Homo sapiens: one gene and its partners. The protein of the gene in region 1 interacts with the protein of each later gene in a biochemical or structural test. Each region holds a gene or a part of one and is shown in the gene's direction. Other genes may lie near its edges.

The links.
Region 2: the proteins of NFIX (region 1) and SOX5 form a complex in vitro, tested with the Homo sapiens proteins (one study listed by BioGRID).
Region 3: the proteins of NFIX (region 1) and PAX7 form a complex in vitro, tested with the Homo sapiens proteins (one study listed by BioGRID).
Region 4: the proteins of NFIX (region 1) and LHX4 form a complex in vitro, tested with the Homo sapiens proteins (one study listed by BioGRID).

The regions. Positions count from the first base shown.
Region 1 is NC_000019.10:12,995,753-13,003,790, forward strand, and holds part of NFIX (nuclear factor 1 X-type), read left to right. Parts: 5' UTR 1-85; coding exon 86-112; intron 113-8,038.
Region 2 is NC_000012.12:23,543,618-23,551,655, reverse strand, and holds part of SOX5 (transcription factor SOX-5), read left to right. Parts: intron 1-5,231; coding exon 5,232-5,340; intron 5,341-8,038.
Region 3 is NC_000001.11:18,631,199-18,639,236, forward strand, and holds part of PAX7 (paired box protein Pax-7), read left to right. Parts: 5' UTR 1-405; coding exon 406-490; intron 491-3,104; coding exon 3,105-3,340; intron 3,341-3,912; coding exon 3,913-4,042; intron 4,043-5,038; coding exon 5,039-5,173; intron 5,174-8,038. UniProt on the Homo sapiens protein: Transcription factor that is involved in the regulation of muscle stem cells proliferation, playing a role in myogenesis and muscle regeneration.
Region 4 is NC_000001.11:180,258,444-180,266,481, forward strand, and holds part of LHX4 (LIM/homeobox protein Lhx4), read left to right. Parts: intron 1-7,759; exon of another isoform or gene 7,760-7,787; coding exon of another isoform or gene 7,788-7,810; intron 7,811-7,948; coding exon 7,949-8,038. UniProt on the Homo sapiens protein: May play a critical role in the development of respiratory control mechanisms and in the normal growth and maturation of the lung. Binds preferentially to methylated DNA.

The DNA.
Region 1 (8,038 bases):
GGAGCCCGAGCCCGAGCGCGGCCGCCGCCTGCCGGGCCTCCCCTCGCCGCGGCCGGCCGCCGCGCTCCCGCCCGGGCGCCCAGCTATGTACTCCCCGTACTGCCTCACCCAGGTACCGGCCGCCGCCCCCGCGCGACCGGGGGAGGGGAGCGGGCGCGGGAGGCCGGCCGGCGGCGCGGGCGGAGGGGACGCGCGGCGGCCGGGAAGGGGGGGCCGAGAGCCCGCGGGCCGCCGAGGGGTGCAGGCTGTGCCGCGGGGAGCCCAGGCACGCGTGCGGGCGTCACCGTGCGCGTGCGACCCTGGCCACCGGGCGGACTCCTTTTGGGGGTTCCGGGGGTGGCCAGCTGCGTCGTGGCGCTGCCCGTGGAGCGCAGGCGGGAGTGCGTGTACGTGTGTGTGTGTGTGTGTGTGTGTGTGTGCGCGCTCGACTGGGGTGCGATGGGCAGCGGGACTCCGGCTGACCTGTGGGCTACTGTAGCGCGCACCCGGGCAGCGTGGTCGCTGGCAGTGTTTGCGGGGTTGACAGAGTGGCAAGAGGGTGGTCCCGAGGGCGCAGAGGGGACACTGGGTCCCGCGACGCTTCCTGGGGAGGGCGCAGCGGTTCCCGAGGGTGGCAGTGGCCGGCGTGCGTGGCGGCGGCCCTTGCGTGCGGCCGGGGTGCCTGGGGTGGGCCGAGCGGCCCGGGCGTCTCCCCAAAGTCTTTGTTTAGGCCTCACATGGGAGCGGGGCTAAGAAAATGGCGGGGCTCCCAAATTTCGGAGGGGCAGGGGAGGGGAGAGGGGGGCGGGCGCGCTGCCAGCGGTGGCCGCGCCTCTCCGACCCCGGACGTCGCAGCCTCTGCCCCCCCACCCCCAAACTTTCCTCGGCGCAAACTTTCTGGCCCCAGCGACCCGGGCTGCTGCGGAGTGGACCCGGCAGGCCTGGGGAATCCCGTCCCGTCGCCTGGAGGCGGGAGGGGCGGGAGGCAGCCGTGGACACAGCCGACAGTGCTGCGGCCACACCGTCGGGTCAGCCTCGGGCACAACAGCGCCGACCTTGGCGCGTTGCTAGAGCGCGTCCCGCCTGCAGCGAAGTTCCCTGCGCGGCGCACGGCTGCGGCAAAAGCTTCGAGGATGCCTGTCGGGCCACCCAACTCTCCCTGGGCTGTGGCCTGAGGCTCTAAGAGGGCACAGAAGCTGCCCAGAGTCCCACAGTGGCCCTGACAGCGTTGCCTGCAGGGCCAAGCCACAGCTGGTAACAGTCTCCGAAGAGGGGACATCTAGGGGCTGCTTAGCCCTGCTGCCAGCCAGGCCTGCATGTGGGGGTTCTCTAGGCCAGGCCCTAATTGTCCCCTCTGCCCAGCCTGATCCTTGTCAGCCATGTGCCAAGTGTGTCCACAGCTTACAGTGGCAGTCCACATGGGTATGGCTCCTACTTTGTCTGGGTCCTACCGGGAGTGTGCAGTGGTGTCAAGGGGCGAGGGGTTTGTCGGGGTGTGTGTCAGCTGTGGCTACACCACACTCCTGTATGCACAGGTGAGAGTGTATGCAAGTGTGAATCAATCTAGAGTCTGTGTGTAGCCCCTGTGGGCCGGCCATGGGCAGGCCTGCGTGGCATGGCCGTGTGTGTGGCCCAGGGAGCGGGTTTTCCTGTAGAAAGCAGGCCCAAGTACGTGTTGGCGAGGGCGCACCGGCATGCATACATGTTGCAGTGTGCATGCAGGTGTGAGCAGGCACCCTGAGCACCATGGCAGTGTGGGGAACCCCCACATCTGCACCTCCAGTTCCACGGCCACTCCATGTTGGGCGCCCCTCACAACAACTGCCTACCCAGCGGTGTCTGAGCTGGGCCTCTTTGGTGCTACACTTGGCTGGGCTGTGTGGCCGATGTTTGGGGCCTAGTGGAACCAAGACCCCACGCTCAAGCAGCCCCTTGCCCACCAGGCTGCCAGCCCGGCCTCCCATGCCAAGCACGCCAGACATCTGAGCCTGCTCCCCCATGGCTTGGGTGAGACACCAGCCCCTCAGATTTCACAGCACCCTGGGAGAGAAAATGCCTGTGGATACGCCGGTGACATGGCTAGGAAGGGGCTGGGGCGGCTGCGAGACCCAGGGCGATGGCCGGTGCTTGGCTCTGTGTGATTGTAGGCCCAGGTTACGACAGTTCCAGTGTGCCAGGATGGCTGGAGAGGGGAGTGGGCATGGTGTCTCCAGGCTGCCAGCCCTTCATGGTGGGCAGGGAAACCCTTCAGCTCTGGGCAGGTGGCTGCTGTCGGCTGGTCAGTGGGGTCTGGCCTGCCCCTCCCTAACAATCACATCTCTGTTTTTACAAATCTTTCTGCTTCCATGGTTTGCCCCGCTGGTCTCTGTTTTTATGACAACCTCTTTCCTTTGCTGTCTTTTTCTCGGTCTGTTTTTATCGGTCTCTGGTGTATTCTGCCCTTTTCCATCTCTCTTTCTCCATCTCTGTCCTTTTGTATGTCTCTGACTGTCTCTGTCTCTGATTCCAGTTTTGGCCCCATCTCTGCTCCCCCCTCCACTGGCGTCTCGGACTCTCTCTCTCTCTGTCTCTCTGGCCTGCCTCTCTCTCTTTCCCTCTCTCTCTCTCCCTTTTCTTTTTTTCAAACCAGAATTGGCTTCGATTTTAAAGTCAATAAATGATTGAGCAGGAACGAGCTTGGAGCAGCGGGGCCCTGGCGGGGAAAGGTACTGTGGGCGAGGGGGAAGGGCGGGGGGAAAAATCTCCTTCTAGAAAAAGCATCGAAATTCAGGGCGGCCGGGTGGGGCGGTTCCTGGAGCTGCTGGAGTCCATTGTAGCCACAGTCCTGAGTCTCAGGCGGAGAGAGGGGTGGGGGGTGGATGGATGGACCCCCATCCCCATCCCAACCCTGCCAAGAAACAGAGACACAACCAGGATGTGAACTCACGTACACCACCATCACCGCCAAGATGGGGATGTAAGTGTCCTGTTCACACCGATGTCCAGACCCACGACCATCGACGAGCCTACAGACCTACGGACACAGGAAACCGACGACTTGTGTTCACACTGTCACACACACCCATTAACACACACGCACCTCTTGAAATGGGACACGTATATTGGTGTAGGCTTAGCGACACAGCAGTACCTCTTTGACGCACGTATGGACACAGGAAACTGTGGACTTGTGTTCACAACCACCCCCAGCGCACACATAAACACTCACAAACCCCTCGAGATGATACAGATAGCGACGAAGGCACATGGAGACCACGACACCTCCCAGACTCATGGAGCCCTGAGCACATGCTTGGATACAGGTAGACACAAATGTGTGTTCACCCCCACACATGCTCACATGGACCCAAGGACGGACAGGCGGATGGATGGATACACATCTTTACACAGAGACATAATGCAGTTGGCTCGCTCAGGTGTGTACACAAATAACTTTTCTTTTTCTATTTTTTTTTTTTTTGAGACGGAGCCTTGCTCTGTCGCCCAGGTTGGAGTGCAGTGGCGTGATCTCGGCTCACTGTAACCTCTGCCTCCCGGGTTCAAGCAATTCTCTGCCTCAGCTTCCCGAGTAGCTGGGATTACAGGTGCCCGCCACCACGCCCGGGTAATTTCTGTATTTTTTAGTGAAGATGGGGTTTCACCATCTTGGCCCGGCTGGTCTTGAACTTCTGACCTCGTGATCCACCTGCCTCGGCCTCCCAAAGTGCTGGGATTACAGGCATGAGCCACTGCACCCGGCCACAAATACCTTTTCAAACACACACACACACACACACACACACACAAATATGCACCAATGCGTGCTTCCCCCTCCTTGCCACAGGGATAAAAAGGCAAACATGCCGACATTTGCTGACACACACAAAGACATACATGGCCGCACACACGGATACACCCGCTCTCAGACACGCAGCGACCTACGCCCATTTTCCTGGCCATACAAGCAGCCGAACGTTCCTGTACTTCTGTATCTGCATAGCTCCCCCAACACTCCTTCCATGGGAGGGGGATGGCTGGGGCTTCCCTGATGCCCCCTTCCCCCAGCTTTCTCTCTGGGTCACTCTGGCCACCCCTCTGTCCCTGCGAAGCTATAGCTCTCTGTCCCTGCTCCGGCCTGGTGCCCTGTTTTCATGGCACTTGGCATTTTCTCTCCGGCTCTGGCCCTGCCTGATTCATGCCCACTGCTGGGGTGGGAGGTGTGCCCAGGTGTGGGCCGGGATGGGGTAGCTCATGAGATGAGCTGGGGCTCCGTGAGATGTTTTGATGCTGGGCCGAGCTCAGAGCCGAGGGCTCTGCCGGGAACAGGGTGCTCCAGTCTCTCTAGGGCCTGGAATGTCTTGTGTAGCCTCAAGAGCTCCCAGACGGAGGCTGCGGGAGCGGAGTCAAGGGCTAGGCTTTGCCGTCAGACAGAAATGGGTTCGAGCTCCAGCTCTACATGTTCTAATCTTGCGACCTGAAGCACAGGATTTTCCTGGCCTGTAAAATGGGCAAAAACCAGTGTCTATCTCTTGGGCTGTACTTAGGTTCAATGTGGTGCCTGGCACATAGTGTGTGCTCCATAAATGGTAATTGTTGCCAATTGTTGGTTGTCAACCTCCCAGACCCTCCCAGCTGAGAGAGGGATGCCTCTGAGGGGTAGAAGACAGGATCGAGCACCTCCCAACCATAGATATCCAAGTGGACTGCCTGGAGGAGGAGGAGGCAAGAGGAGAGTTTGGAAGGATGAGAGTTTGCACATGGCCCAGCTCTTTTACCTTTGGATGGGGGCCTGTAGGCCAAGCAGAGGGTGGCACAACTTCAAGATAGGGGAGAGATGGTGGGGGAGAGTGGGGGGCAGGAGGGGAGAGACGAGGCCTCCACTGTTCCATGAGGACCAGATACCCTGGTTGGGGGCCCTGAGTCCTGGTATAAGAGTATGTGTGCACGCATTCATCCAAATGTATGTGGGACAAAGAGACCCGGTGCATCTAGATGATGACTTCAGGGACGTCCCCAAGCTCCAGAACTTTCTGTGTCTGCACCTGGGCGTTGTCACCTGGACCCGCCATGGAGACAGGACATATGTGCAGGACCCTATGGTGGGCACTTGGCTGGATCAGGGCACATTGCGGGTGGGAGCAATGCTGGGTGTTTGGCCGTGGCGCCGTGGCTGTGGGCAAAATGCCCCCGTGGTTGGTGTGTTGACTGCCGTCCTCCCCATCTAACCCACAGGGAGCCTGGCCTTTTAAATCTGCTGAGATATTGTCTCCCCCACCCCCATGAAGCTGGAATCTGGGGACTTGCTGGACCAGAGAGGTAGGGGAGGCTGGGCACTTTCTCCAACACGGTGCTGAGAATGGGCCTTCTGTCCCCTCCCTCCCAGCTGGGGTGGGGAAAAGGAGGGGGGTGTCTTAATTTTCTTGCCCCCAAAGCCCTGGATGTGGGGGCAAGTGGGCCAGGAGGACAGCTGTGAGCCACTATCTGGGTTCTCCCAGATCGGTGTGCATGTTAATCGGCATGTCAGGCCTCAGAGCCACCATTTTCCCGAGGATGTCTGTGTGGCAGCGTGTGTCTGCCCGGGTCCCTCTCCATGCCTCTCCATGTCTCCCAGCGTCCATCACTGGGTGCTACCTGCATGTGACTCCACGGATCATCGCACGCCCTGTCTCTTGTGTATTTGGTAGTGGGGGTCGGGGAGCGTGCCACCATGCGTGTCAGTGTGCCGGATGTAGTCTCTGTGTCACGGTGGCGCTGCGCACGTCAACGGGTATTGGTGTACCGGTCACCATCTTTGTATCTGCGCTTTGTATCTGGGGTGACAGTGTCCCAGCGACATGCGTCACATCTACAGCAGTGTTTTTCTGGGTGTCTGTGCGTCACGGCAAAGAGTGTATCCGTGTGTCTCACACACGTGTTGGCCTGTCCGTGTCAACTTGTGTCCACATACGTGTCAACGCACGTGTCTCCAGTGTCATCACCCTCATATCACTGTGCCTCCTGAGCTTGTCCCCGTGACAATCACTGTGGGTCTCACCCCACGGGCGCCTCTCCTGGGCATTCCCTTGGCCTCCGAGCACCATGTGAGATGCCTGCTATGGCGGCCGGGCAAGCGGCTGGGAGCGGGCTGGCTGCTCAGTCCCTTCCCATGAGGTTGAGCGGCCGCAGTGGCCTTGCTGGGGGCCCCGCCCGTGCCCCTGGCCTGGCGTGGACAGAAGCCCGTTGTGCGGCAGCGAGGTGCGGGCGTGTGTTCGGGCCGCCCACAGGCCTCCCTCTGTCTGCCCGGCGCACATTGATCTTGGCTTCTGCCTGTGTCCGTTCTAGCCTGGCCAGCTGGGTGTCCGGCTGTCTCCGTGGGCCTGAGCCCACTATCCCCGCTGCCCCCACAGCCAGGCAGGCCCTGGGCCCCACACCCCTGGGCCACCCGCCATCCCTCCGAGGCTCTGAGGGCGCGGATTTGGAAACTGAGGTCCCCCCTTCTTTCCCCCTTTCTCTCTCTCTCTTTCCTCCCTCTCTCCTCCCCTCCTCCCCTCCTCCCGCTCCCTCTCTCCCTCTCTCTCTCCTCCTGCCAAACGCGTCTTGGCTCCGTCTGAATATCTCTCCTCCTCGATTTTTGGCTCCAGCTCTGGGCGCGTTCACTAAAGGAAGAAGGGCTAGCTCCCCAACCCCCCCTTCCTCACCACCTCCCCCCTCCCGAGGAGCCCCTCTGAGGGCGGGAGTGGCCTCGTGCAGGGGCCTGGGCCCCCTGAGTGGGCTTGGCCAGGGGGGCACAGGCCTGGCGGGTGAGGGAACAGGGTGGACAGGGCCTGGCAGCCAGAGGGAGGCAATGGGCAGGGTGACTGAGCTGCCCGGCGGGGCGGGCGGGCAGGGAGGGGTCGGGGGCACGGAGCTGGGGTGTCTGGCTTCTGGTGGGGCTGGCAGGCCTCTGTGAGGCGCAGCTGTGCCCAGAACTCCAAGTTGCGTTTGCCACCACTACCGATGTGGCTGCGCCAGCCAGGGAGGGGAGGCGGGTAGCGGGCACTGCGGCGCTCTGCAGCCAATCGGAAGCCGGGGTTGCACTGGGGAGCTCTCCCCCCACTGGGCCCCACCCTGAGGGGAGCCGGGGGTGGTGGCCAGCAGTGGGCAGGGGGCAGTGCCCACCACCATCGCCAAGGACCCTGCCCCCTCAGCTGAAGCTCAGTGCCAGCCTTCCTGGCACAGATCGGGCAAGAGCGGGGATCTGTCTGTCCCCACCTGAATCTGTGTGAGCCAAGCTGGAGGAAAGGACAGCATGGAGGTGCACCCGACCCCCCTGGGCCTTTTAGTCCAAGGCAGGCAGGAGCTAGGGATGGGTTCCAAATTATCCAGGTGGTTCCGTCCAAATATCGGCTTCGGTCGAATCATCTTGGGGAGTTGGGGGGGGGTTTATTCCGGGTCCATCTCACACAAAGTCACACACTCTCACTGGCACATGCGGGCACAAAGAATCACGCTGACACACACTGGCATGCTGCACCTCCCTCAATCAAACAGACACAGGCGTCCCCATACAAAGAATCTTGCCCTCACTCACAGACACCTTGAGGCACCCGGCCACACCCGAACACATCGATGCGGCATTACACACTCAGGGACGTGCATGTGGGTGCAGACACACGGGACACGCGCAGTCACACGATCACATGCCATGAAGCACACAGCACAGACACAGGCTCTGCCACCGTCAAATGCAGCCCCACAGGCACAGCTAGAAACACACAGCACACACACTCAGTCATAATGTCAGTGCCCAAAACACACACATGAGCACCGATACACCCGCACATGCCACCAAGCACACAGGTACATGCACATGCATGCAATAACACGCTCTCAGACACACAAAACACCCCACACACTCCCTAACCCAGTGTCACCCACCAGGAGTGATTTCACCCATTGGGAAATGTCTGGAAACATTTTTTTTTTTTAGAGACAGACTGTCATCTGTAGCCCAGGCTGGAGCACAGTGGTGCGATCTCGGCTCACTGCAGCCCTGACCTCCCAAGCTCAAACGATCTACCCATCTCAGCCTCCTGAGTAGCAGGGAATACAGGTGCATGCC
Region 2 (8,038 bases), on another chromosome or scaffold:
ATTATTAAATTCCAGAATACCAAAGGGTCTATGGCTATTCTCACGGATAAATTCATACTTGATGGAGGTAAAATTAGTGACAGATCTCTTCAACATGTACTTTTGTTAGAGTTAGAGGAAAGTGTGTATTTGTGTGAGTGTGTATGTGTGTGCACACACATATAGTTTATATATCATTTATACATAACTTACAAGAAACCCTTTTCTCCCATTTTCGGTGTTATATTATGTGGGTAGATGATTATTTTCTAAAAAAATTGAGATATTAATAAGCAAGAGTGAAACGAGAGGTTAAAGAGTGGACATGCGCCTTATTTCTTTACACTTAAGCTGATGAAAAAAATCTCCAACTGATAAATCGTTATGACATTATAAGTAATCTTTCATCTTCTTTGGTGGTCTGTGAGGTTCACATAATTGGAGGGTTTTTTGTTTCTTTCTTCCCGTGTCGTTAATATAGTAGAAGACCATAAAGAAGTGCAGCCAGAAGAGGTTTAACTGTTACTGAGTCAACATTTGACAGTCACACTCTATTCTGTCATTTCATGCATGTGCTTTTTATGACTTTTATAGCTTTGTGAGCTTTATTTCAGGGATGTCCATTATGATAGCTGATCCATAGCCTATCTCTTTGTGTATGTGTGTCTGGTGGAGAGCGAAGCTCATCACTTAGCTGAATCCCAGTTTCAGGGAGTAATAGATGACTTATCTACTCACGCACTGTTTAATTTAGGATTAGGTAACTAAGGAAATATCTACCTCTAAAGTACAGTTTGTGTGTTCTTTTGTTTTGACTGCTCTGTAAAATATCAACATAGGATGCCTATTAGAACCTTTGCAAAAATAGTGAATTTTCAGTTGTTTTTTATTTTTTTTAAGTCAAAATAATGGAGCAGGGAAAATTTTTCAGTTTAAATATGTACTAGACTTACAGTCTGGAACTGTAACTCATCATGCCTGAGTATGAAATTGAAATAAAAAACAATGATTGAATATATTGTAAATGATAGACAAAGAGGGGAAATTTCTGAGAATATTTAGAGTTGTTACTAAAATTCCCTTTTTTAGTGCATATTTGGTTATACAGAATAGAGTTTATAATCATAACAGGCTACTTAATACTGAAATTTAACTATTTCTGTAATTCTCACATGTTAGATTCCCTGTCTTTTCAATTTTCCCCACTGACATTTTAAAAATAATATTAAAAGTATATCTATCTTAAAATTTTCAAACTAATGAGAATCTAACACATGTTTAACTATCATTTTACAAATTAGGATTCTGGGACTCGAGGAGGATAACATATTTGTCTAAAGCAGTATGGCTAATATATACGGCAGAGAGTTTGATTAAAATATGATATTCCTGATGCCAAAACTCATTATTTTCTAACCTCAAAAGTGTCCTCTTCCCATGAATCCCTGTGGCCTTTCGCCATTCAGAATGGTTTTTGGCTTAGAAGTATGAATTGATACTGACCACCTCCAATCAACAAAGTGTCCATATCTCTTTAGCTATTTCTTGGCTCCCCTTTTAGATTCCCACCATAGCCTGGGATTATGTGCAAACAGTACACATGCTGTTTTGCATTATGCAAGTCTCTGGATAAGTCACAGAGCACAAGACCAGCTACCAAGTTCCCCAAGTGAATACTAATACGTTAATAATAGTTTTCTGTATGTCAGATTTTGGAGTTACTCATTTGCACCCAGGAAACCATGTGGTCTACAACTGTCTTCTGTCGATGAGATACAATTCACTTCGATCTTGTTTCAAGTCAACATAAAATCAGAAGATTTTTTCAAGTCTGTTTTTAAACAGACTTAACCTAATGTTTCTCCTTGATCTCAGCAAACCTGCAGAGTTGTAAAGATGTGATTAGGCAGATAAGACTCATCTTTGCAAAGGAATCTAGTTGTTATCCCATTGCTAGTTTTTATTCAAGAGAGAAAGCATACAGGTCATCTTGTTTGGCCCATACCCCAGGACTTTTACATGTTGACTACTTTGTTGTAATTAATCTCTTTTTGCCCTCTATTCTGACATCATTCAGCGCATTTAGAATTCTGGCGAGTATTCCTTTAAATGTATAAAAATGTAAAAAGAAGGTAAAGGAGAGAAGACCAATCAATCTTGTCATTTTCATATCAGCATTCCTAAGTGCTGTGCTGGATTTGTGTTCCAGAATGGTGACCTTTAAATGGGGGAATGGGATGCTATTTTTCTGCAGAAACTCTTGAGTAACATGATTTTTATCAGAGCCGTGATTTTTATCAGATTATAAGATCTATATCACCAACATGATTTTTATCAGATTATAAGATCGGTAAAAAATTGTCACTTGTGCCCATCAACATTTATTTGTTTTCCCAAAATCAGTTTCTTTGGTGTTTCCCATTTTCAACATCTTCCCACTTAACCCTCTGCTTACCTGAAATCTACTGTCCTTGTTTTGTTCCATCTGCCTCTATTTAGAAAAGAGTAATTTATTTATAAGAAATTTGAGAATCAAAATATTACCTTTTCCAGTAGTATTTGCTCTTATGAAAAAACACTTTTAGAAAAGGAAATATTTAACCCACAGAACAGAACCTCAAATGGTTGAGCTTTATACATGATAGTGCATAGGTGAACTCTTTCAGAGAGGGGATGGCTGGAGACAGGTGGGATTAAAAGGATAGAGTAGGAGAGATTTTTCTAGTGTGTCAGCACTTCTGCTTTATAACATTTGGCTGAGTCTTTCCCCTCCTATATGCCATTCAATTGAATTTAAACTTTTGAGAACTATTCTTAAATCCCATTCATTCTTTTGGTGGTTCAATATATTACCTAGACACCTAACCACATATAAATTTATATCTACTTTTATACATAAGTACTATGTGTCAGCTTTATAGGATCAGTTGTCATATGGAATTATAGGACAATTATTTTTTACTTAAGTTATTGTCTCCTCACATCAGTTTCTTTTTCTTCTGAATTTATTGTCCACACTTTTTTTAAAAAAAATGTGGCAACGTTATCCTTTTGATTTGCATGCTGTTATAATCTGTTTTAATTAAAGGCATACCTCACATTCTCCATTTCCTGCAATCACCTTTCCTTTTGCCTGTTCTCATGTCTGTTAGCTTAAATTACTATACAAAGGGTTACGAGAAAGTACAGCTTACTGTGTTGACTTCCACTATGTCCCACTGACGTCCTCTTGAGAAGCATAGTAAGTTTTACTTTTGGGTAGCTAACTGAATCATTTTATTAATATTGGGTGCATTAGTGGTGGATAATTATAGGTTACTTATTGTAAAAACTGAGTGTGACTTTCCTGCTCATATTTGTTAATTTTAGTCTCTTGGTAAGACAGCACAGCATCTGTAGAGCTGAACTCAGAACCTTGGAAGTCACTTAACGTGTCGTTCTTTTTCTACTTTGATTAATTTTGCTTTTTCTTCTTGAAAGACTTTGCTTCAGAATGGAAAACTCTCTAGAAAATGTGTAGTATTATTGCCCTATACTGTTAAATCAAAAGCTAAGAGGTGATCCAAGCCCCGTACATTCCTCAAAGAGAGTACAGTAAAGTCTTCATTGACCCGAGGACTATCAGATCATGTTGATGGAATGTGTGTATGTGTGCGTGTGTTTTCAAATGTAACTGTCTTTTGTTTTAACAGCTACATTTACTGTAAAGAAAGTCTGTTAAGCTGGTGTCCTTGATGCTCCTGAGCTCAGCTGAATATATACAGCCGACTCTCTCAGCAAAAGACATCCAAAACATATGAAGCAGCTGAAAACAACAACTTCACACACAAAACAAATCGAGTCAGATTCTACAGTTTTAAATGCGTAACTTATTTCAACTTTAATACTATTTAATTCTATAGAACTAAAGTTAATATAAACTATTTTGTCTCCAGTTTCTCTACTGTATTTTATACTGATTGACAATTTAAAAATAGTTTTCTATTAAATAATGTACATAATTTGATGAATAGAGTACAGGAGTTCCAAGGCCACTGACTTAAGAGATTTTTTAATTTAGTATGTACAGTTGTCACATTGTCAGAGACTTCATTGAGATAAAGCATGTACTGTGTTAAGAATTTCAATATCTCATTAGTTCTTGGTGGGAACATTAGTTGGGCCCTTTACCTGTAATACAATTATCTTACATCATTGATTACTTTCTGTGAACATTTTATTGTGTCAATAGCAGTTCTGCAGTGTATGTCGTTCACTAGTATGATTCATGACTATGTTCCTCAGAAAATGAGGTGAATAATTATAAAGAAACTTGAGATAATGTTATGAGATCCAATGGATGCATTTCTTAAAACTGTTTTGGTGCTGTTTGGTACTACATCATCCTCAGAGCAGTGCTGGAGAGTTCACGAGAAAGTTATCAAGTTTCATTATATGCTTTTTCTGTTCCTAAAGTCACCCAGTTTCTTAATTTGACAGTAATGTCTCATATGGTTTAGATTAAGCATTATATTTTTCTTAAAAATAATTTATTTTGAAATGCTATGTTCTCCATGAATGTGAATCGTGCACTGCATGCTTAAACAACTTGATGTCTCTGTAGATCTAATTTTGGTATATTTGTATCTCAAATAATTCGCCAACTCAATATTTTGGCTTAGCAATCCAAATCAAATTGTGGTCCAAGTAGCAGGCACTCACATTGGATGTACAGAGACTTGACAAGCAATTAGCAATGAATATTTAAACGTCTTCATTACCCTTGCATGAGGAATGCAGATGGCATTTGGGAAGATGGCAACCAGAGGGCACTACTGTGAATTATGTTTCTATTATTTGGTCACCTGACTATTGGAAGACTTTCTCTGGGCTTCACGCCACTCCTATACTTCTACTGTCTGGCCAAAAATAAAGCAGACATTCCAAATGTAAAACAGGTTGCTTCCATGAAATTTCTGTGCACATTTTGTAATTTGGGAAGGTTGTCTCCAAGGATCCCGGCATATATCCCTTAGGCATACCAAACCCAAACGCCAAGACTTTATAGGGGTCTATGAGAATCAGAGTTCCTTCAAAAATCGTGCTGATCATCCCCTTAATGACTTCAGGTTAATGTGCTGAACGTAAAAAGGTGAATATATCAACATTGCATCCTTTCCAGGAGTTAATGTATTATATATGTGGCCCAAAAAAAGAAAGTCTTCAAATAATTTTAATTCCTAGACTGATCTCTCATTATAATTTTTTTAAAGGAAAAAACAACACTGGAGAGTCTGACTCAGCAACTGGCAGTTAAACAGAATGAAGAAGGAAAATTTAGCCATGCAATGATGGATTTCAATCTGAGTGGAGATTCTGATGGTTTGTGAAAATTGTTCATACATATTCTAATAATGCAAGAAAGTGTCTAGGTAGTGCCAATTAAAACTGCTAAAAAATAGACTAGACAGCCACCTCATACCTCATCATTACAATAAGAGGTCACATATACTGAGCAGTCCCCATGTGCCAAGCACTCTGCTGAGTGCTTTGCAGAAATCGTCTCATTTAATTCCTAGTCAACCTAGGATAAGTCCCATTGCAGAGAAAGAGCCTGAGCCTCAGGAGTTTTGAAGCATTTTCCCCAGGTCACAGGGCTCTAAGTGTCAGAGGCAAGAATTAAATTCGAGATGGCATGATTCTAAAGCAAATGCTCAAAATGCTTAGCTTCCCAGGCTCAAGTGATCCTCCCACTTTAGCCTCCCAAGTAGCTGGGATTATAGGTGCATGCCAACATGCCCAGCAATTTTGTTTTTTTTTTTTGAGATGAGGACTTACTTACTATGGTGTCCAGGCTGGTCTCAAACTCCTGGGCTCAAGTGATCCTCCCACCTCAGCCTCCCAAAGTGCTAGTTTTATAGGCGTGAGTTACTGCATGCGGCCTCACTTCCCTATTTCTTGTACCCAAAATGAACTTTTTCAGAAATTTGTTTCTATTGGCTCATTTTTTAAGTTTCTATTTGTCAAGCCCTCACCAGAATACATGGCTCAGAGGACATTTCCACGATAGTTTCTTACATTTTGGAACCCTTCTCCCTAGTGCTATGTACTACATAGTCAAGTGTCGGGCCCACTCTCTATAACCTAACTAGAAACCAGCTGCACAGCTTTATGCTCCCTTCTCATAGGCCTTCAGACTTCTGTTTTCTGTATCATCTCTGAACATTCTAAACATCCACAGTGAGAAGAAATTAAATTGATACTCTGATTTTTAATAGCGTAGCAAAGAGGGAAAAAGAAGGAAGTGCTGTTCTTCTTATACAATACCCTGACCGGGAACATCTCTCTACTGTCAGGTGGCATCCATGCATTTTAAGCATTCCTTTGGCAGTACCGCCCTCAACTTTGTTACTACTACAGGGAAGTTCCCTGCATATAGAGAAGAGTGCACAAAGGCAAACCAGTGAGATGCATACTTTGAGAGGGGGTCCCCTTGAATCCTCCAATATACACAACTGTTTACTCTGTGCCTTGGGCCAATTCTACTTTTAAGACCAGGTCTATACTAATCAAGGGACTAAACAAACCTGAACGTTGAAACACGTAATTCTATCAAAACTGAATTTTACTCAATTGGATTCAATTTGCATTTTTCTGGGTCTAATGTTGCAAACATTTTCTTCTATTTTCAGCTCCACTTAGCTAAGATAAACCTAGCCTATGTACATTTAAAGAGCTTGTTTAGATTTGATGAAGACACATAATGTTCATTTTATTGCTTATGTTGCTGTAAGGTGTAAGAACAAGAAAAGGCAGATGTGCAAATGATCACTTGCTAGTTACAAACCCATTTTAGGAAGATGTTGCCATATATTTGCACTTATTTTGTCAATAAAAGACAATTACGGGTAATAACACATTTCATAAATTTTAAGTTGTATTAGCATGATAAAATATACCCACAGTAATCAGCATTAACACATCAAAGTTTTTGTTGCTGTCATTACCTAAATTCAATCATGCTTGTATGTGAAATATTTTCTACTTTTCATTAAATCAAAGAGCATGTTATTAATGAAAAATATTGAGAAACTTCACCAACAGGTATGCTATGTTTTGAATGTGCTGCTATAGAGGTCTTCAAGTTTGGGCAATTTTGTTTGATTCCTGTGTCTCCAAATTTAAAAATAAAGAAAAGATGAGGAATGAATACAAAGCAAGAAAAGAAAAGCAGTGCTTTTGTTGATAATACAGTCTCTACAAGTCCCCAAAGTATTTTTAAAGTTTTGGATACTATCAAAATACATCTACTTATTTTGTGATAATACCCAGTGAAAACCTACTGTCAGAGTTCTACTGGTTCTCCTTATTTTCTCTTTGCCTAAACTCAAGTATCTTGGAAGCAATTTAATCTGCTGAAGCCATTCTAAGGGGTCACATAAGGCTGGAGGAGTGAATGCAGCTTCCAAAGCTATCGTTGTTAACTCTTGAATTGTGTTTTATCATCTGTGAATCTTACTGATTGAAATGTGACTGTCCATGGGACTCTTTGGATAACTTTAAATATTAGGGGGAAAATTCAAAGGAAATTATTATTTTTCTCATCTTAAACATGTGACTGTAGACTCCTTAAGAAACTAGAGGAATGTAACTGTTCATTTGTTCTTTTCCATACCAGTTTTACATATATTTTGGGGGGCAGACCTGTCATTGCTGTATCAGCATATGTCATGCATTTGTCAGCATATAATTTCAAAGAAAAGCCAATTATATTACAGGGAAATACCTATATTGTTTTTAACCTCAAAATTTGGTCAGTGTTTTTATTTTTGTAACCTCGGAGAGAGAAAGAGAACATAAGGTACTATATGTTCAGACAGTCTTTAAGTAGCAAAGATATATCCTCCCCTATAATCATCCATTCTGCCAAATTGATTTGTGCTTCTTTACCTATTTAATGTTTCTACACTACTGGTATGCCTGTTGATTTAATCTGACTATCCTCTTTCCGAATTGCATCAAAAATCACATATCGGAGTTTATTTTGAGCTGTTGAAAGTAAATGGTGAAACAGTCCATT
Region 3 (8,038 bases), on another chromosome or scaffold:
GAGGCTGGCGGCCTCGATTCCGGCCGCGTTCCCCCGGCCCCCCTCCGCCGCGGGGCCTGGTCTCCGGGTTCTGCCAGGCGCATCAGCCCGCACAACTTCTGGCCGAGGCCAGCCGGCAGAGGCGGACTTGGGGTTGGAGTGTTTGTTTGTTTGAACTTCCTCGTCGTCGCCACCTTCCCTCCCCCCAACCTCCACCCCACCTCACCCCCCTCCCCAGCTTCTGGACGCGTTTGACTGCAGCCAGGGGTGGGGGGTGGGGGTAGGGAGTGTGTGTGGAGGGGAGGGAGAAGAGGTTAAAAAAAAGAAGACGAAGAAGACGGAAAGAAAGAGATCGCAGCAGGGGTGAAGGGAGCGGACGGGAAGCGATTTTTGCCGACTTTGGATTCGTCCCCGGCGTGCGCAAGAATGGCGGCCCTTCCCGGCACGGTACCGAGAATGATGCGGCCGGCTCCGGGGCAGAACTACCCCCGCACGGGATTCCCTTTGGAAGGTAAGAACGCCCAGGCTGGCCTCGCCGCGACTCCGCCGCCCGGAACTCGGGGTCCTTGGAGAGGCTGCGGTCTCCAGGGGACGGTGGCGGCGCCGGCGATAGCAGAGGGATCCCGTTCTCTTCTGGGTCCCAGTCCGGGCGCGGAACCCAGGGAGTTTCTGGGACCCATACTTGTCCGCTTCTGCGTGGGTTTCACTGCCCGGCGGCCTTCGTTTCGCAGGTCGCTAGCTGCCGGTCTTTACCCGCAGGGCTGAAATTCTGGTAGATTTGGACTCCTAGTAAATATCAGGTCCTGGTGAATTTCAGCTCTTTCCACTATTTCCAGACACTTCTTCCCTGACAGTTTCTCGGCTCTCCTGGCTCGCTGGCTGCCAGCTTTCTACTCTTGTTTTGAATTATTTTTTCCACCCCCGGGATTGGTCTTCCAGTCCTTTATTTCGAACCACCTACCATGGGTGATACTTTATATGCCTCAACTACCACGGCTATCCATTTCTTCCGAAGCCACAGTCAAACACTCCTGCTTTTCCGCCTGGAAACAAACTAATTGGAAATAATAATTAGTAATGATTTTCCCCCTAAAACTTTTTACTCGGGCTTCCGCACTCTGGAAATCTCCCGGGAGAGAACCTCTAAACGGCGAGGTTTAGAGAACCTCTAAACGGCGAGAGGGGCACGGCAATGTCCAAACGAGAAGAAAGAGCTGATTTTGTAAAGCGTCCTTCCTAAACATCCAGCGCCCGCCCGGGGAGACCCGATAGGACGGGCGGCGGCGAACCGGGTCCTGGCTGGAGAAAAGGCTGGGAGCGCACAGCGGAGAGACCCGCTCCTGTGTTTTTGTTCTGTTTTCTTTTTAAACTAATGGAAGGCCTCAACCTGTCACTGAGGGATCATTTGGCTTCTGAGGGTAGGTAGCCTAGGGTGTCACAGAGAAGTCATTAGAAATATGTGCGACTTTTTTTTTTTAAATTACTCTTCCTGTGATCGTTTGAGTCCCTGGCGCGTGAGGAAGGGGAGAGGAGGCAGGGAGGGGGTGGGTGGGCTGGCAGCCTGCGATCCGGGAGGAGCTCCCTTGGGCAGCGAGACGGCGCCGGGTCCCTGAATTAGACAGAGGCGAAGAGAGCGGCTCCGTGATCAAGTGCGCGCCGGCAGCCACGCAGGCGGGAGAGCGCGCAAACCCGGGGATTTGCAGTGGCACTCTCCTGTAGCGAATGCAAGTAAAACAGGCGGCTGAGGACGCGCGGCGGATTAGAACAATATTTGCCCAACATGACGCAGAATACTGAGGAGAGCCGAGTGCCGGTCGCTAAAGAGGCTCTTGAATATAAAGTTGGGCGCTCGAGAGCTCTTGAGCGCTAATGGCATATCCCGCCACGGAGACCGAGTGACTCCGACTTTGCGACGCACGATTTCTGATTAAATCCGAGAGTGGCTTCAGACACCGACTTTTACAAAGAGAGGTGGGGGGACCGGGAGAGCGAGGGAGGGGGCGGTAGGAACGGCCCAGCAGCGGAGCCTCTTCTCGCCTCCTCCCTTTCAATTACAGTCAGCTCCCTCCACTCCCGCGGCTGTGAAATCGTTCTAATCTTCCAGATCTCCGCAGCCGCTGAGTCCCCAAATTGGGGGGATCGAGGCCGGATTAGTGCGCTGGGTGTCCCCCCAATCTTCTGTGAGGAAATTGTGTAGACTTTGCATTAAGGCAACCAGGCGTTCTCCCCTCCCCAGCACACACCAGTGATGCCTGTCTTCCCGGTTCCCAAAGTCACCCCCACCCGGGGGGACTGTGTCCCATCTGCCTACCAGCCTCGCAGAGCCTGCAGGCACAGTTCATGGATTTGTGAGGCCAAGTCGACTATTTAATTTAGGAGCTTTGGGGCAGTAGTGTCCTAAAATTGTCCCAAAACGAAATTAGGACTTCGAGGGTGGTTAGAAGCAAGGAGAGTCACCCAAGGGACAACCAGGTGCCCTTGGAGGCAGCAGCCAACAGCATATGTCACCCGTCCCTCGGCTGTGCCTCAGCTGTTCCCTGGGACAGTTCCACGGCTCTAGCCAGAGCTGTAAATGTAGTAATCAGCCAGGCCTTTCTAGCCCCCAACAAACTGGATCATTCATGACTACCAGGAGCGTAGAACTGAGCAGATGAGCCACATCACACCCGTTATTGGCCTCTCCAAGACGCAGGCAGGCCTGCAGCCCAAGCTTCGGCCTGAGGGACAGATAGTCATTGGTCCCAAGATCTCTAAGGCTCTACCAGCCTGGTGGCTCTGTCTGCAGTCTCATCTTCATCTCTCTCCCTCCCCTTCTTAGCAGCATTCGAATCCCCCAGGTGTGTCCTCATCCCTCGTAGTGTGGCAGGAGTTGGGGGACACAGCATCTGGGGAGACTCTTGCAGCTGTGACTCCTCTATCCATCTCTGCAGGAGATTTCCTAGATTTATGACAGTTGTTTCTCAAACTACCTACCTACCGAAGCCCCAGTGTGAGGACCACCGGGATTGCTGTCTGAGGTCTTGGGGCTCAAACAAACAAAACTGGAGTCAGGGAGTGTACTCAGTGTCTGCTCTCCATCCTCACCCTGCACCTCTCTCCTTCTGCATCTCCCCTCCCTTCTCCAGTGTCCACCCCGCTTGGCCAAGGCCGGGTCAATCAGCTGGGAGGGGTCTTCATCAATGGGCGACCCCTGCCTAACCACATCCGCCACAAGATAGTGGAGATGGCCCACCATGGCATCCGGCCCTGTGTCATCTCCCGACAGCTGCGTGTCTCCCACGGCTGCGTCTCCAAGATTCTTTGCCGCTACCAGGAGACCGGGTCCATCCGGCCTGGGGCCATCGGCGGCAGCAAGCCCAGAGTGAGTGTCTTTGCCACAGAGGCTGGCAGCTGGCTTCCTATAGTCGGGGGCTCCTGGTTGTGGCCCCTCTTACTACCTCGTGGCACCAGGCTGTAGGAAAGTACAGCTGGAGGGTGTCTTCTACTCCCAGATGTCCTCCCATTGTTTTCCTATTATTTGAATTTCTCAGAGATGGAGCTAAGTGAGGTCTAGGTTGTGCAAGACCTTGAGGCCAATGAGCCATTCCTGGACTGTCCCCACATTTGCCTCAACCCCTGTCACCTTCCAAGACCAGAAGACATCTTCTCTCAGTCTTTCCTGAGATAATGACGGGGACCCTGGGGGTCCTAATTAGAGTTTTTTATTGCCTATCCATGTCCCACCCCACCCCACCTGGCCAGACCCCCAGCTGCCTTCCTGGGAGCCAGGAACCGGTTTCTTGAAAGGATAAAGCCAATCTCTTGGGGGATGGGGGGACACAAGGTAACCAGAACCACCAGCCTGGTCTGGGGCTCTTAAGAGGTGATATTAAAAGTATTTTCCTCCCCCCATCCCATCTTTCCACTCCTACTCTCCCACCTCCACCTCTGAAGCAGGTGGCGACTCCGGATGTAGAGAAAAAGATTGAGGAGTACAAGAGGGAAAACCCAGGCATGTTCAGCTGGGAGATCCGGGACAGGCTGCTGAAGGATGGGCACTGTGACCGAAGCACTGTGCCCTCAGGTGAGAAGGCAGCTGAGCCGGCAGAGCTGGCCCAGAGTGTGGCCAGGGGTCCAGTGTGGAGGGCTGGAGGTGGGAGAGAGGGGAGAGGAGATGATGGCTGACTGTGAACTTACTGAGAAGTTGGGAGGAAAGGAGTACAGAAAGGCAGAGTTAAGGCATAGGAGTAAATCAAAACAGAATGGAATAAGATGGAAAGAAGGAATAGGGAAAGAAAAAAAGTTAAGAAAGGAGAGAGAAATAAGAAAGGGAGGAAGAAGGAAGGAAGGAAGGTAGGAAGGAAGGAAGGAAAGAAGGAAGGAAGGAAGGAAAGCAGGCAGGCAGGTGGGCAGGCAGGAATGGGCAAAAAGTTAACCTAGAAAGCTGGATGATAAGAGAGCCCCCCTGGAGGCTTTTTCGGAGAAAATGGCTTCAATAGATGGATCTGTCCTAGGAGGGTGGATGCCCATGGGCTTCCCTAGACCACCGTCTCAGAGTTATGATTTCTGCTGTCGCCAACACCAGCCATTTGAGTCCTAAATTTGGAGGTCCCAAACCATACTGCCTGTGAGAGAGAAAGTGATCTGTTGTGTGTGTGTGTGTATGTGTGTGTGTGTGTGTACATGTGCATTCAGGCACGCAGGGCCAGAATGCACACCTGAGTGTGGGAGTGGCAGCAGGAGCTGGAGAGACTCCAGAGAGGCCCTGGGACCTCTCGGGGGTGTGGGTGGAAGTGCACCTAGGCAGGTGTTAGTGTAAGGCACGAATGCATGCAAGCATCTGCATAGAAATGCACAGTCTAACCACCCTGTGAGTGCCCGGGGTGTGAGTCAGGCTTCTCCAAGTGGATGCTGGTTATGGAGTACGTGTCAATGCCTAAATGCCTGTGTGTGGAAGAGGGATGAATGGATATCTGTAAGGAAGCAGGGGGCTTCCTGACTTTCTCCCAGGGGCCCAGGCCACCGCTCGCTCCTCTGCTCCAACAACTTATACTTGCTCTTTTGCCTTTGAATTTCTGAGGTTTAGTGAGTTCGATTAGCCGCGTGCTCAGAATCAAGTTCGGGAAGAAAGAGGAGGAGGATGAAGCGGACAAGAAGGAGGACGACGGCGAAAAGAAGGCCAAACACAGCATCGACGGCATCCTGGGCGACAAAGGTAGGGAACTTCCCTGGGCTGCGAGGCCCCAGCCCGGGTTTTCCCACGCTCCGGTGTGCGGGCCAGTGGTTCGCTCCCGCCGCCGGAGCAGGCGACCAGAACTCCAGCGGAGAAACTCTCATGCTGCGGGGCAGCTGGGAGCCGCTCAGGCTTTGCCGACAGCGCCCCCTCGGTGCGCACCCCGGATGCCGGCTAGATGCGAAGCCCGCGCCTTCTTTGCGCTATGGAGGCCGGGCACGGACGGCCTGTGAGTCCCGGGAGAGCCCGGCTGCGGGGCTGCGCGCCTGGTCTACCCCAATACTGCGGGGAGTGCGTCCTCCCGGGCTGGCGTTTTGGCTGCTACTCTCGGCGTCGATCAATTATTTATAGGAAACTTGGGCAAGGGGGCGGGGGACGGGAGGGAGGGAGAGAGGAAGGAGGAGCCGGCCCGCGGCTCCCTAAATGAATTTGTTAACCAGACCCCCACACGCTCTCTAAACGGTCCCTTGAAACCCCGCCTGACAGTTGACTGACCGCTGCAATCAATAAAAATTAGCCAGGGCCGCCGCCTGACTCAGCCCCGCGTTGCCAGGGCGGACTGGGGGACAGAGAGTGCCTTCCTCTGTGGCGTGCGCCGGCAGGGCTGGGAGTGGAGGCCAAGTTCCCAGATGCCCAGGGTCGGAGGATCGCAGTGGGGGAGAGACCCAGGCTCCACACACCCTCTCCCCATTCTTAGCACGGCTTCCGCGGGCAGGCTGGAGTCTGAGTCCTGCGCCATGCTTTTTCTCAGGATCAGCTAAGGAGGGCGTTTAGTTTTCAAGCGCCCGGAAGCCCGGGAAAGGGGATTGTGCTTTTGTTTCTTGACGGGAGGAAGTTTCGAGAGAAGGAAGGGAAAGTTTTTCCTCATTACCCCCTCCCCTTCCTCATTGCCCTCATAATTCCCCTCCTAAGTCTCTTTGAGACTTGGTAAGTGCACGTTAAGGGGCGACAGGGAGAGAAACAGAAATGGAAGACCCAGAGTCACAAAGACTGACAGTTAAAGAAAAGGCCCCAAACACATACGCGGAGAGGCGGCAGGCTGAGGGAATCGGAAAGACAGTGGCCATGGGAACCCGCAGACTGATGGCTTTGGAAAAAGTGGCGAGTGCCCTGGAACCTGAAAGCTTGCAAAAAGCCAGTGTTGTTTCAGTCTCCCTTCAGAGGTTTCTCCCAGCACCCCTCTCCTCACGACCCAAGCACTCCTAGCCCAGGTCTCTCTCCAGTTCTCAGAAGACCCTCCCAACCTTGAAGATGAACTTCACAGACAAAGCCGGCTTACTAAGACAACTCCCATCTACGCCCAGCCCCCACAGGCGTGGTCCGAGGAGGAAGGATGGGTGGCCGGGCAGCCCCGTGTGACAGCGGCCTGGAGCGAAGGGAAGGGGCGGCCATTGACAGACAGGGCCCCTAGTGATGCCGCAGTCCCGCCCGGGACAAAAGGGCGAGGGAAGAAAGGGAGCCAGCTGTGCCGGGCGCCCCGCTGTGCCCGGCCTGCCGAGGGGCCACGGGTCTGCGGCGGGAGGCAGCCCTGCACTGCCAAGCGGTCCTTGGCTAGGCCAGTCGGCCCAGAGCCCTGGGACACCTGCCGGGGGACCCAGTCCTTATTTCAGTTCCCATTGGAAGGAGACTAGATGGACTTTTTGTGGGTTGTGGAGGGGAGGCATAGAACTCGAATAATCTTTCCTGGACAAATAATCTTTCCTGCACAACAAACAACTCTTCTGAGGTTATCCCAGGGAGAAGCAGAGGAGGTTTGGTTTTCCTTGGAGAGACTTTAATTGTGTTTGCACGCAGGGAGTATATCCAGTTCAATCTGTGAGGAAGCACAAATAGGTAAATTTCCTCTGAGAAAAAAGGGAAGGGAAGGAAAGGAAGAGGATGGAAAGATCGTGCGGTTTGGAGGATTCCTCTGATTCCAGGGAATGCGGGGCGTTCCATGCTGGCCTGTGCTCACCACACCAGCTAACAAGCCACTTTGCTGGATAGAGGTTTTCCCTGCAGCAGAACCAGGAAGAACCACGTCTCCAAGGGTTTAAAGTGGAGCCTGTGCCAGATGGGGGAGGCTGAGGACACAGGTGCTAAGTCTAGAGGAGCTGAAGAAATGAAATGATCTTATGCAGTGAGCCTGGTCTCCAGAAAGTCCCGCAGTTTTTGCGTGACAGTGGGTGTGCTGGGTGCGCTGATTGTGCTTTGAATGGCTGTGTAAGCGCAAGCATCTCTTAGTGTGACTGTTTACCCACGGGCCTTCTGATCTGAATGCTGTAGGCCATATATCTGTGCAAATGGGATTCAGCATAGATGTGCAGGGAGTGTGTAGATGGGTGTGAATGGGCAATATGATGGTGCAGATGAGAGAGGGCCATCTATCCATCTGTGAGCAAATTGTATCCGTTTCCTATTTGAGTTCCTGGGCTGGTCGGCAGGCACCCCTGTGAACCCCTCATCTCTCTTCCAGGCCCCAGACATCAGTTTCATGTCCAAGTTAAAGGTGAAAAGACCTTCCAATCTCCATCCGAGTAATCCAGGTAGGGAGAGGCAGAGATGCCCCATGGCCAGAGCAGGGGGAGTTGTGCACACCCACAACTTTGTTTTGGCTTCTTGCTCTTGAAAAATGCTTTCTCTGGGGGAGTTGCCCCTCTCATGGCAGGGAGCCACCAAAGAAGGGGTTTAAGAGCTCTCCTCTTTAAGCACTAAAGAGAGATCCCTCCCTGAGTCCGTTTTTTCCTATCGTCCGCTTGGCATTTAATAATGTTAAGACTTATTAGAGCTGGTAATGAAAACTGGGACTGCTGAATAGGAAACTGTGTTGGAGAGGGGTGTAATAGCTTCCAGGCATGGTAAGAAACT
Region 4 (8,038 bases), on another chromosome or scaffold:
AGGTAGAAGCCACTGGAAGGTTTCAGCAGGGGAGGGCGAGGGTGTGACTTAGGCCCACTGTGGCGACCATGTGCAGAAGTGCCTGTAGGGGCATGGGCGGAAGCGGGGAGACTGTTAGGAGGCAGCTGTAGGTGCTGGCTGATGGCAGCCCAAGCTAGGGAAGGCGGTGTGGGTGTGAGAAGTGGTCCCCAACATGATATAATTTTGAGTAGAAGCTGGGCGTGGTAGTTCACTTCTATTGTCTCACCTACGCAGGAGGCTGAGGCGGGAGGATCTCTTGAGCCCAGGAATTCAAGCTTGCAGTGAGCTGTGATTGCACCACTGCACTCCAGTCTGGGCAACAGAGCGAGACCCTGTCTCCAAATAATAATAGTAATAATAATGATAGTAATAATAATTATTATTATTCTGAGTAGAGTCAACAGGATTTGCTGACAGATCAGATGGGGACGGATGCCCAAAGGTTTTGGCCTGAGCTGTGGGAAGAATGAAGTTACAGTGGTCTGAGATGGGAAGGGCTATGGGAGGAGCAGAGGGTGCGGGGGGTGTTGGTAGGAGTTTGGTTTTGGACTCCAAATCCATGTGCTGTAGAGGCAGTGGAGCCCCAGTCTGGAGCCCAGGGGTCTGGGCTGGAGGTGAGATCCCCAGGGGAGCGGGGTGGGCAGAGAAGAGGTGTGGGAGGAGGAGGAGCAGGAGCAGAGGAGCAGAGGCCGGAGAGCACAGTGTAGGAGGCAGCGAGCAGGTGTGTTGGGAGGCTTGGGAGGCCAGGGAGAGGGGAGCTGACCGCTGGGCTGCAGCACAGCTCTGGTTGGGTAGGGCACTGCCTTGAAGGGTGCAGGAAGTGGGCAGTATAGAAGGGAGGCAGGCAGGGATCATAGAATGCCTGTACATGGATGGAAGGAGCCAGCAGAGGTGAAGCTAATGACACAGAAGGCAAAGGGGATGGTTGCTGGGAGTCTCATTACGTGAGAAGGAATGAGCTGTGTCTGGTGGAGGTGCATGGTTCACCTGTGGGTGGCAGGCAGGGGCTGGGGCCCCGGGTGTGCGAGTGGAAGGCACAGTGGGAGGTGGGGAGGGTCCAAGCCGGGCTTCCCTCTTCCATGGGAAATGGGAGGGCGCCAGCAGCTGAGCCTGGGGCTCAGTGGGGGAGCGGGTGGGAGGTGCATTCTGACCCCCGGCCCCCGAGGCACCATCAGTCCGGTGGGCAGGGGCTGCTTTCCTGGCTCTGTGGATGCCCGTGCTGGGGTGGGGCAGGCGCAGGGCGGAGAGAGGGCAGGGTCCAGGGTGTGTGGGGAGGGACAGGTGGGATCGCCCTGGGGTCTGCTGGGTAAGGAAGGAGGGAAGCGAGGGACAGTGACAAGCCCAAGGGGAAGGGCAGTCCCTGGGTTGTGTGAGTCAGTGCCCTGGGGAGCTGGAAGAACAGCGGGGTCCAATGGTGGGAGGGTTGGAAGTGACCCCTGGAGCTGTGGCAGTTGCTGGTAACAACAAGGTCTGGGGGAGTGAGCGGTGGGAGGGAGGGTAGAGGCCACAGCCTTCAGGAGGTCAAAGAATTGAGAGGGAGGGCCTGGAAGGATGGTCTATGTGGGGACTGCAGTCACCAAGGGTGTGGTGGGAGTGAGGGTGAGCCTGAGTTAAGTCACCCAGGCGGGAAGCAAGTGGAGCAGGGTGGCAGTGCAGCCACGGGGTGAGTGCCGGGGCATTGGGCTGAGGGCTGGAGGTGAGGGTCGGATGAGATCACATGTGCAGGGCCCACTCTGCACAGGACACAGGTTGGTGCTAGGAGAATGGCAGCTGCCTTTATTACCAGCGTCTCAGTGACCCACTTGTGGTACATCATGCGGGTCTGCTCAGAGGTCGGAACTTACCATCAGGAATGTGCCAGACAGCCAGGGTGTAGGATTTATGCACCCCTGGTTCTAGAAGGCTCGGTCCCTGCAGGGCCTGCCTGCTGCCCCCTTTCTACAGGGTCCAGACCCTCAAGCCTGTCTTGCACTGGTGAGCAGCCCAGCCAGGTGGTCGGGAGCAGCAGGGGTGGACAAATCAACAGCAGCAGGAGCTCAGGCGGAGCTCAGGTGCAGAGGCTGGGACCCAGCACACAAGACCTAGTCCTCTCCTGGGGTCCAGAGTGGCCCATGAGAGTCAGCCGAGAAGTCTCAGCTCTTCTCTGCCCACACCTGGGCCAGCCGGAGGATGTGGAAGGTGGACAGCGGGCCAATTACATGTGTTGGGGTTAACACACTGGGGGGTGAGGGCTTCCCTGGCCACCCCAGCACTGCAGGGCTGGGAGCCTCATGCAGGGGGCTCAGAGCCACATGAGGGGGACAGGCCCTCTCCTCGAGCTCCAGCCTAGGTCAGGGCACCAAGGCCGGGTTTGCTGCCCTTGAAGCCCGCCGCATGTCCGCTGTGTTGTGTCAGAAGCACCGACTGCAAACCCCGGTTCTCTCGCTCGTTGCCCTTGGGAGCTAGGGGTCGGCACCTCACCTCTCTGAGCCCCAGTTCTTATCTGTTAAAAGGTGTCACAGTACCCACCTTTCAGGCTAGGAGCTCAGGAGACAGTCTGGAGGCAGTGTGATGGCGACAGCAAGTGGGATGTAAAGTCTTGTGGTTTAGTAAACCATGGGCCTCATTTCAACCCGGGACTTAATGCCCTTCTTAGAAAAGCTTTTGGCTGGGCACAGTGGCTCACACCTGTAATTCCAGTGCTTTGGGGGCCAAGATGGGAGGAGGCGGCGAGCAGGTGTGTCGGGAGGCTCGGGAGGCCGGGGAGAGGGGAGCTGACCGCTGGGCTGCAGCACAGCTCTGGATGAGTGGGGCGCTGCCCTGAAGGGTGCGGGGAGTGGGCGGTAGAGAAGGGAGGCAGGCAGGGATCATAGCATGCCTGTACATGGATGGAAGGAGCCAGCAGAGGGGAAGCTAATGACAGCAGAGGCAAAGGGGATGGCTCACACCTGTAATTCCAGTGCTTTGGGGGCCAAGGTGGGAGGATCACTTGAGACCAGGAATTCAAGGCCAGCCTCGGCAACATAGTAGGACCCAATCACTACAAAACATGTCTTAAAAAATGAGCTGGGCATGGTGGCATGTGCCTGTGATCCTAGCTGCTCAGGAGGCCGAGGTGGGAAGACTGAGAGTTCGAGTGCAGTGAGCTATGATTGTGGCACTGCACTCCAGCCTGGGCAACCGAGTGAGATCCCCTCACCCCTAAAGAAAAGAGCTTAAAACTGCTTCTCTGCTCTGAGAAGCACAACTAACTGCCTTCACTGAAATATACCTCAGGCAGAGATTTGGGGTGAGATAGTAGGTCAGTTGATGTTCTGCAGGAAGGGGCAGCTTGTCCATATCAGCTCGCTCACGCCGCCAGTCCATTCTTAAGGAACTGCCAACCAGGACTGATGATGCATTTTAGCTTTGAGCTTTTGGGGGTTATCCTACCAACAAACAGTCCTTCGGGAAGAAAACAATCCCAGGAATTAACAGATCAGAATGTTCACACTGGTTAATCTTTTTCTAGCAATGAACATGAAGCTAGCAGAAGCTGGTGTGTTTCCAGATGGTTCCTCTAACCAAACTAATTTTTCACTGTTGACAAGTGAGGCAAGGGTTGCACTGGACCAAAGGCTGAGGCTTGGCCATCTAGCATTCCATGCAAAATGGTTTCCTATAAGCATTCCTTTTATTCTCTATTCTATCCTGGGTCTGCCTCAACCATGAGATAGGAGAGTCTCCGGTACTAGCTGCTGTAGCACTGCCCTTCATCCAGGACAGTTAAAGGAGTCTTGGACCTTTCTTTCTCTGGGATCGCTGCCCAGCACCTTCCTACAGAGATGACTTTGAAAGGAAAAAAAAAAAAAAAAAAAGGAAAAACAGCACACCATTCCAAGGAGCCTGGCATTCCTGAATCCTCCTTCCCTACAAGGTGCCTGTCACCTGTCTTTACTGCCTCCTTTTCCCTGTCATGCTCATCAGCTATGGCTTCTGTCCAAGTGCCTGAACAGAAGACTAGAACCTCCACTGCAGGCTGGTTTGAGGTCGTGATTTATGTCAGAATCTTGCACAGCACTGCTAATGTAAATTTCAGCTTTTTCCCTCTAGGATAAACACTTACCAAAGTATGCAACTTTTTTTGGTGGGAAGAGGGATTGTCCTGTGATTTCTACCCATTTTCTGAGGCCTGTGGAAATAAATCTTTAGGTACTTAAAGTTAGACCAAAAATAGAACAAAGTTAATACCAAACTTGAAAAAAAAAAAAAAAGAAAAGAAAAGAGCTGCCATTATGGAGAGCCAAGCCTCCCCTGACTACTCAGGCAAATGTTTTAAGAAGCAGTTCGTTCGTTCACTCATTCGTTTGCTCATTCGTTCATTCATTCATTCATTCATTGGGTCTTTGTGGCTTGCCTACTATGTGCTGGGCAGGGATAAGACAATTTCCAGTGGTGTTGGTTAGAGGATGAAAATAATATGAGCCATTAGCAAGTCTTCCTTGCATTTTCTCTGTGGTTTTGGATCAGCTCCAGCTGCTCTCCTGGGGGGACTGGTTGTCCCCAGAGGCCTGGCTAGCAGGACTGGGCAGCAGGCTTATCTTTCTGAAGGGTGAGGCCAGTGCCCTTGGTGCCCCTGCATGGGTGCCCGGTGATCGGTGTTAAGGGGTGCTGCTTGGAAAAGCCCTTGGGAGCCCTCTTCCTTGGCTGGAGTCCAGCCTTTCCCTCTTTACCCCAGCGTCCTTCATATTTGGTCCAGTTGGTTAGACTTCTGGTTCTCTGTGTAGCAGCCGGGTTCACAGTTTTACCTCGTGTGGGGCCAGGGAATTCTAGGCATGACCGTGTGTCTCATTATTGCCTGTCGCAGGGCAAGTCATGTGACCTGCCAGGCTTTGGCCTTCTCACCTGTGACTCTGGCTATTCTAAGATCTGGGAATGGGGACAGTGTCTCCATCACAGACACACCCCTGTAGGATGCCCTGTATTCTAGATACACTGGCTCTGACTGGAGATGGGGTGGAGGGTGATCTGCAGGGCTGGGCTGGGCCGGGGGAGCCTTGTGGGCCAAGGAGGTGCTGCATGCGGCTCCCTCGGCAAGGGTCCCGCTGGCTGTGCTCCAGGGGAAAAGGTAATGAGGAGCCACTTCCACTTCCCTTCAGTATAAATCCCACAATCAGGAAAATTGCTTCAATTGCTAAAAAACGCTGGTGGGGAAGTCCACTTATTTTTCATTTTTCTTGTGCACTTGCCACCCTCATGCATGAATCACTGTCGGTATGTAGATTAAATTTATACCCCCGTTATCTTTCATGTCTCTGGTGTGCTGGTGTCAGCTGGGCCTCCGGTGACTGAAAGCCCCCTGCCTGCTTTTTAGTGGGAGAGAGTGTGGCCCCTGTGGAGGAGGCTGCTGAAGGGTCTTCCCTCTGTTCCGGGGTCTCCTCTCAGCCCTCCTCTCCTTGGATCTCTGGTTAGGACACATTCTCCAGATTTGCGTGGTTTGTTGGGAGGGTTCGCAACAAGCATGATGAAAGCCTTGTTTCATTTTAATTAATTAATTTAGAGACAGGGTCTCGCTCTGTTGCCCAGGCTGGAGTGCAGTGGCGTGATCTTGGCTCACTGTAGCCTCAACCTCCCTGGGCTCAGGTGATCCTCCCATCTCAGCCTCCCAGGTAGCTGGGACTACAGGTGCACACCACTACACCCGGCTAATTTTTTGCATTTTTTGTAGAGGCAGGGATTCACCATATTGCCCAGGCTGGGCTCAAGTGATCCTCCTGCCTCAGCCTCCCAAAGTGCTGGGATTACAGGCGTGAGCCACCACACCTGGTGCCTTGTTTCATTTCAGTACCTGCTTTGCAAATTGGCTGGGATTGGATATTAAATATACAGGCCTTTTGAAAACACTCTCTAGTAACACATGTGTAGGCTTCCTTTCTCTGTTATACACACACACATAACACACACACACACACACACACACACACACACACAGTAGAGGTGGGTGCCTGCCAGCCTTCCTCTTTGATCCAGGTGATGTGGTTACACAGCAGTTGTGGAGGACCTGGTTCTCACCTGTGTTCTGGGAGGTCTAGAACCATCCAGAGCCGACTGTGTGCTTTGTTCTACATCCTCAGGTTCGGCCATCTCCGTGCACATCCTCTACAAGTATGGTGCTTTATCTGCTGATTTATTTATTCAACAAATATTAACTCTACTTTCCTGGGTCCTGAATCCCTTTAAGAATCTGATGAAAACCCAGGTCCCCTCCTGAGGCACAATTTTGAACAACTTAGCAGGTGGTTTACAGGCCTATGCTGACCCTCACGCAGAGAACTCCTGCTCTAAATGGGCCCCATCTCTCTGAAAACCAAGAGGCATTCCAGGAATTCAGAAGCCTGGGGTCCTCCCAAGCCACCACCTCTCAGCCCCTCACACCCCAACACCCTTCTTATACCCATCTCAGAAGAGTGTTCCCTGAAGTACACTCTGGGTCTTTCAGGATTACCCATGCAGACTTAGAGAACCCCCACTTTTCTCTGGGATGCTGTGTCCCTGGTGGGGGGCGTCTGAGGCTGCTGCTGGCCATGCCTATTCCGGGCCCCCATAACCCCCTCAGCAGGTATCATTACTGCATAACAGACCTATCATTCTGCATTAATCTGGTATTCATCATGATAGCCATGACCATAATTAATTTATTTGGTATTAATGTGGATGAAATATGTACTGTCCTTTCAGGGGAAATCAGGCTGCCTATAAGCATTAGTTAAAAGGACCATTAAAATCAAACCTTCCCCAGATCCATTAGGCGAAGTCTTTCATCCTGAAGAAGATAAAGTTCTGCTGTGTGAAATGTCATGAATAATTAGGTTGATTGCTGTTTTAAACTCTGCCCTTGCTTTCCCAATGCCTCCCGCCTCCCTCCTGAAGCGGGGAAGGCTCACCTGCAGCCACGCACCCTCCTTCACTGTCCCTGTCGGCCCCCAAATTTCCCTCGTCTCCTATGACCATCGGTGTGCCTCTGTTGATCTCTATGACCAGAATGGGGAAAGGGAGTGGAAACAACCCCACTGGACGATACTTTTAAGTGTCAATTTCTCCTTCCTTCCCGGCCTTGGCAGGGGGTGGCTTGCTTGGTAGAAGCTGCCTTGGTGGCAGCAGGTAGCTTCCTTTTGCCTCGGTGTTGTTCTGGAAAGGTGCTGACCAAGGAGAGGTCTGAAGCAGCATTTTCCAAACTGTAATCTGCAGACTCCTTGTCCCGAATGCTGTAGGGGCTGAAAAGTGCAGCTTCCTGGGCCCTTCCCAAACCACCATGCCCCAGGCTGTGTGCGTGCATAGGAAGGGGATGGAGGTAGGCTTGGAGGGCTTTGTGTGTGCAGAATGGAGGTGAGGGGAGAAATGGAGGCAAAGGAGAGAGAACAGCTGTCAGGACAGCCTTGCTCTGCTGACAAAGTGCATTTTCTCTGCAGCGTGCTGTCCCCTGGCCAGGCAGGGCCTCCTCCCTGGGAGTGTGTGAAAAGGTGTTGCTGGGTGCTTTCTACACACAGCCTGTGGCACACACAGTTCCCTGTGAGGATGTCCTCTGGGATCAACCATAAGGGTGAGGAAGCTGGGAGGTGGAGGGGGAGACAGCCTGCTTTGAGGGACTTAGAAAGTCCACCTGCTCCCCCTGTGAATTGATGGGTGTTAATCGGGCAGCTGGAATCCGGGGGCATCAGCTTTGGAAAAGGTACCTGAGGGAGACTCTAGTTCTCATCAGTCCCTTCTTTGGTGGTTGAAGAGTCCCAGGCACAAAGCAATGAAGCTAGATGGAGGCAGAGAGGACCAGACGGTAAGCTCTGGGTGACTGGGGGGTGAGGCTCATGGAGTCCCGGAGTGGTGGGGTAGGAGGGAGGCTGCTCCAGGAAGTTGGGGGAAGCCAGATCCCTTGCTCCCTGTGTGCCCTAATCCTTTCCTGCTGCCCTGACAGGCGCTTCGGCACAAAATGCACGGCCTGCCAGCAGGGTATCCCCCCAACCCAGGTGGTCCGCAAGGCCCAGGACTTTGTCTACCACCTGCA